Linked DNA regions of Homo sapiens: region 2 is linked to region 1. Evidence: fine-mapped expression QTL. A gene starts in region 1. The other region holds a variant in brackets. All regions are shown on one strand. Distances are from middle to middle.

Region 1 (2,894 bases):
CCACTGCACTCCAGCCTGGGCGATAGAGCGAGACTCTGTCTCAAAAAAAAGAAAAGAAAAGAAAAGAAAGAATGGCTTTATTATATACTTCTACAGATGGAGAAACTGAGGCACAGATTACAATACACAGGTGCTAAGAGGAGGCCCAGTTTGGAAACCAAAGCTTCTCATTCCAAGCCCAGGCCTTTTCCAAAACATGTAGTGATCACTTAACCCTACTCCCCTTATTCTGTAAATGATAATGTTCCATCCCCAGAGGCTAGGTGGCTTGTCAGCGCTGCACAGATCCTTAGCAGCATGGCTGATGTTTATCCCTTCACAAGGAATGAAGGTGAGCAGGGGTTTGACTCAGGGTGTTGCATGCATATCTACATGCCACAGCGTTTTAATATTGATTCTACCTTCTGAGAAAAATACAACTTTAATATCACACATCTAGATGTCCCCCCCCCCTTGAAGTAAACTTTGTGCATAAAAATCCTTATGTGTATACACTACAAATTAGGAGTTATCCACTTCGTAACACGGACCAAGTATTCACCATAAAATTCTCTTAAATGGCAAGTCTCTCTGTAGTCGTTTATTACAATTCAATTTATACACAAGCTTTCAGGAATGCACATATTTTATAAAGCAAAATACACATATAATGCGAAATGTCACACCAGTTTTAAGCCAGTAAAGTTTAAGGATTATCTTTAGGAGGACAGAAATAATTTGTTCTATGAGTTAATCTAGAATGCAGCAAGTTTCTCTTTGCATCTCCTTCTTCTCCTCTAAAGTCCAATCCAGAAAACAGGGGATTAGAATGTAATATGAGCAATTTCTGTTAAGTTAAAATAACTTTTTGTTTTTGGGGAGGCTGAAGCCAGAGGAGGCCGGGCTTGAGCCCGGGAGGTCGAGGTTGCAGTGAGCCATGATCGCACCACTGCACTCCAGCCTGGGCGACAGAGCGAGACCCTGGCTCCAAAAAATTAAAGTAAGAATTGTTGATGGGTAAACTCTGGAACAGCACGCCAGAGACCTTAAAGAATGAGACCCTCCCACTGGAGTCCCCTGGGCACGGGCTTTCGGGAAGATCGGTCAGCTCGGAGCTGCCTGGTTCTATGGCCCAAGCACTGTGATGTATTTCCCCTAACTCAGAGGGGCCAAACGAAGATGGACGTGAAGGGCGGGCCTCCCCACGACCCTTCCAGCTCCGAGCCCGTGGGAGGCCCGCTTCCCAGTGGCCGGGGCGACCTGGGCTCCCCGCTCCTCCGCCCCGCCGGTCCGCCACCCCCGCCCGGCCGGCCCGGCGCTGCCTCCTCTATACTCACTGGGGGCTGCCGCCCGCGGGTTTGGCCGCCGCCGCCTCTGTCCCCTCCATCCCTCGGAGAGGCCAGGCCCTCTCCAGCCCCTTCTCCCTCCCAGGCCAGCTGCTGGGTTCGGGGAGGGACTTCCAGCCCCGAATCCGGGGCCGGAGGGAGTGCGGCCCGCAGGCCTCGCCCCTCGGGGCGCGGCCGACTGGGGGTCCGGGACGGCGCCGAGGCCGGGCCAGCTCCCGGCTCTGCTGGCAGCCCCCGGGCCCCGGGTGGGTCTGGCCGGCGCAGCGCCCCACGGGCCGCACTCCCTCCCGGCGAGAGGACGGGAAGCGGGGTCGGGCAGGGAGGGCGCTGGCAGGGAAGGAAGTGGCATCAGCTGTCCGTTCACGGCTTTGCCGTGGAGGGGAAGAGCGGCCAAGCCCGCGCCTTCCCGGCCCGCGCTGGGCAGAGGGAGCCGAGCGCGGAGAGGTGGGGCCGCGGGAGGGGCTGGAGGAGCCGGGCCTCGGCCTCCCACCCCGCCCGGAGCCCCGCGGGGCCGCCTCTCCTGAGCCGCGGCCCAGGGAGCGAGTGTCCCCGGCCGTCAGAGGCGCGGGATGGAAGTCCAGGGCGGCCCCGAGCTTGGGGACGACGGGGCGGCCGCCAGCCTCGCAGGGCGGTGGCCCCTTCCCCGCGGGAAAGCGGGCGCAAGAGCGGAGGCGCGCGGGGCGCACGGAGGCCGGGGAGCGCGGGCAGGAGCTGGGGGCGCACCACGTTCTCGGCGGGCTCCGCGCGCCGCTGGTAACCCTACACCCAGGGCTCGCCTTTCGGGGTGGAAGCTGAGGAATGCCTTTTGTGTGGACAAGTTTTCCAGAGGAGCCGGCCGCCCTCTCTGTGGGGCCGTCCATCGCTCCGTAGAGCCGTTTCCTCCGAGGTCAAGGTCGTTGGTTCCCGCTCTCCAGAGGCGTGAGGGAAACCCGGAGGGAACGCGCTCCGCGCATCCCGTCTGCCGCGGTGCCGGAATTGCCCGCCGCCGCCTTGGGTGGGGACCGGTTCTCAGGGTCCTGGGGGCTCTCGAGCAGATCACTTTCCCCAGCGCGGGACGGGGGTCGCAACCAGGGGCATTCCCTGCAGCCGCGGCCCAAACCGACGGAGCTTGCTTTCTCCTTCCACCCAGAGGGGGTGACCGAGCCTCACCTATTTCCAAGCCTATTTTTTCACAAAGACGGGAAGCAATAAAAGTGGCCTCAGGAGATTCCGGAAATCTCTACAAAGAGAAAGTGCCCGTTCATCTTTCCTTCAGCCGACTGGCTTCACTGTGAAGCATGGGGTAGTTGTGCACCTCCAGATGACAGGACAGACACAGCAACAGTAAGGGCCGCGCAATATGTACCGGGGCAGGGGAGGAGGGGAAGGAAGTTTTCTAGAGGGGCTGCCTCTTGAGTCAGGAGGGGGTTACTCTGCACAAGGTGGGGGAAGGGGCGTCTGGCAGGGCAACAGGAGAGCGGAGCCTGGGGAGCTGTGAGTGGACTGGCGTCTTGGCAATCTAGGAGCTTGAGAGATTATCCAGTGCAAACCCTCTGTGTCACAGTACAGGCCCAAGGTTACGTCAGAGGC
Region 2 (2,894 bases), 23 kb before region 1:
GGGAGGGACCCCAGGGGGAGGCGGTTGCCTCAAGGTTTGTGTAAGCAAGGGAGGAAGAGGGACCAAGTCTGTGTGTCCCTGTGCAGTGGAGGGGACTTTGCATCCACATCCTCAATAAGGTCTGTCATCTCTCTGCCCTCTCTCCCTCCACTCTGTTGCCAAGCCCTGGGTCCCTCTTGAGCCATCCCAGCCCCAAGACTGTCAGAGCCGTGGTCACATTAGAGCAAAAATGTGTGGAGTGAGCCTGTTATCTCTGCCTAAAAGTGAGCGGCAGAGTTGGTCACCTGGGATCACAACACCAGGGATCAGAGCCTGAGCCTGCCAACCCCCAGGATTCTCCCACAATATAAGGACCCCTTCCAAAGGCAAAGTGGTGAGACCCACACCCTTCAGCAGCCTTGCCTGCTGAAACCTACTGGTCCACCAACAGGCCCAGGGGCCAGGGAGGGTCTGGTACCAGAAAGCACACCACCTAGGAGCCCTGTTCCCTTGGTCACAGGGTCCTCTGGACAGTGTGTCTGCCTGGCCACAGAATGCCTCAAGGGCAGGACTCCTGCTCAAGTATTCACATGTGCATTCCCCACAGTGCCTAGTATAGTGCCTGGCACATAACAGGTGCTCAGCCAATGCGGAAGGAATGAATGAGTGAATGAAATGAAATAATGATGCTGGAGGGGCAGGGCCTCAGCCATGTGATTAGTGGACATCTACTGTTCTAAACAAATAGTAAATCCTGGAGCTGTTGCCTCTTCCTGAGCTGTTGGGAGTACATCCCTTAAAGTCCAGGCCTCCAGCAGCCATGGAGCTTGGAGCTTGGAGCTTGGAACCTCAGGGTTCCCAACAGGAAGAGGACGTCTCCACCACCTTCCCCATGGTTCTGCCTCCCCCGGGAGGGAGTTGCTTAGTCTGCCTCCAGGCCGGCGGTCAATCCTGCATCCAGCCTCCACCAGCACCCCTGACACCTCAGAGCAGCTCCAAGGAGCTGCCGAGGTGGTATGTGACGCTGCCATCTGACTATTGAGATAAAAGGGAATGACTCTGAAGGCCTGTGTGTCATGGATTGGGTCTGGGCGTCTGCTGTAGAACCACACCAGGCCTGGGCTGGGCAGGAACCAGCGGCAGCCCCTTACCATCTCTGCTGTTCTCCAGGGGCGGCTCCGGTTCCCGGCTGCAGGGGCCCCTCTCCACCCTACCCTCGTGGACGGCTCCCCCGTAGGGCTCCTGCAGCCCCCGAGGTGCGCT[G/A]TTGTTGCAGTTGTTGGTGGACAGGGCCAGCAGTGGGTGCCTGACCTGAGGGCGGCTGGGCTGGGTCTGTGATGGGGGCAGCTCACAGGTCCTGAGAACCGCGCTTCTTGAAGGAGGCCGAGGGATACCCACAGGCTCTGTCTGGTCACCCAGCCTGAGCAGTCCAGCCAGGGCTGCCTTCCTGTGAGACACTGGCGAGGTGGTTTTCCTCGAAGGGGGAGGGGTTGGCGCCCAGCCTTCAGGACACAAGGAAGCTGTTGGCTGCCAGGCTTGGTGTGGGGCAGAAGGCTCTGCATGGCTCTGTTGCAGGGAGGAAGGAGAGACAATTTCCAGGGACTCGTGGCTTTCTGTAACCTGGGCCTGGCCTCCTGGCCCCGATGATTCAGGCGTCATGGGGGCGGTGGTGGCATAGGCTGTCCTGCATGGAGTCCGGGAATCCAAAGGGTGAGGCTGGTGACTTCCCAGCCCTGGTCCAGGCTGCCACTGGGGTCCCAGGGACACCCGCTTCAACTCCAGGTCAGGAGGCTTGGCATCTTCTCTCAAAAATAGAGTTCCTTCAGGCGTGTGTCCTCTGCCCTCTTTCACCTCATTTTCCACCTCCACATCATCAGCCCTAGGCAGGTGTTGCTGGGCCTGAAGGCCCCAAGGGAGCTCCGCCTCAGCCTTCTTGGACCACCTGTGGCCTCGAGGCCTGGAGCCCCGCAGTCGCAGTCGCGGGCTGCTGCCTTGGGTCCGCCCACACGCCCAGCCAGCCTGAGAGGTCCCCGCCTCCTCACTGTCGGTCCTGCAGTTGTCAGAGTTGTCTGTGCTGTCCAGGGCAGAGTCCACCTCCGCAGGGCACACGGTGTCTCCGATGTGTGTTTCCCGGATCCATTCCATGTGGAGCCGGGGCTCTGCAGGAAGGAGCCGGAGTGGGGAGCTCAGGCCACCCAGCACCCTCTCCATCCCACAGGCAGCCTGGAGCTCCTGGAGGGTCCTGGGGACGGGGGGCGCCTTCCCCTGGGCGGGGCGCGGGTCGTCGATGCAGCTGCCGCAGGCCTGGCACCTCCTCTCGCTGCCCGGTGCCGGCGGTGCCGGGTGTCCCCTGCGGTCCAGGCTGCCCACAAGCCTGTGGAATGTCCCCTGCCCCGCGTCCCGGAGCCGGGGAGCCCCGTTGATGTAGTCGGCGAGGTCGGGCTTGGAGCGCAGGGGGCCCTGGTCCGCGGCCTGCAACACGGTGCTCAGCACCTGGCGCTGGCGCTGCTGCAGCCGCTCCAGGTGACGGAACTCGGCTTCGCGGGCGGACTCATCCTCAAAGCGCACGTGCGACGGCGAGGGGCCCCGCCTCGGCCTGTGCCCACCGCTGGACTCTCCGCTGGAGGAATCGCTCGTGTGCCCGTTCTGGAGGCTGTCTCTGCAGGCAGGGGTCGTCCTGGGGTCCCGGGCTGGGCTTCTGTGGCCATCTCTGATGAAGAGACAGGAGGAGAGAGGTCAAGGGCAGAAACCTGGGGAGGTATGGACACGCATCGGCCCTACCCTCTCCACCCTGGGCTACAGTCTCCCACCGTGCTCTGTGGCAACCGCAACCCACAAGGTTACTCCAGAGAGGATTTCTGGGGGCGTCTCGGCAAACCAGAGTAGCTTGCCAGCCCATTCTGATCCTGAGACAGCGC

Which allele goes with the higher level. Alleles are on the strand shown, and positions count from the first base shown. SD is a standard deviation of normalised expression in the study named.
As copies of A replace G in region 2, the expression in tibial artery of the gene that starts at base 1,713 in region 1 goes down (small effect, 0.30 SD a copy in GTEx).

Evidence for each region. PIP is the estimated chance that this variant, and not a neighbour inherited with it, causes the effect.
Region 2: its variant is fine-mapped to the expression of KIAA1614 in tibial artery (GTEx, PIP above 0.99). The same link has a PIP of 0.9 or more in aorta, atrial appendage, cerebral cortex, fibroblasts, lung and prefrontal cortex.

The regions. Positions count from the first base shown.
Region 1 is chr1:180,911,716-180,914,609 of GRCh38, reverse strand. KIAA1614 reads right to left here and starts at 1,713. Exons shown (of 9, transcript NM_020950.2): 1 at 1,317-1,713. The coding sequence starts at 1,366. LINC02816 (long intergenic non-protein coding RNA 2816) reads right to left here. Exons shown (of 4, transcript NR_185877.1): 4 at 554-2,894. RefSeq lists a silencer at 1,618-1,917.
Region 2 is chr1:180,934,907-180,937,800 of GRCh38, reverse strand. It overlaps KIAA1614, which reads right to left. Exons shown (of 9, transcript NM_020950.2): 5 at 1,131-2,686. It overlaps LOC107985231 (a long non-coding RNA gene), which reads left to right. Exons shown (of 2, transcript XR_007066761.1): 2 at 1-1,043. Among named protein-coding and RNA genes, the nearest start is that of KIAA1614-AS1, 19 kb to the left of the region's middle. The variant G/A (reference allele first, on the strand shown) is at 1,243.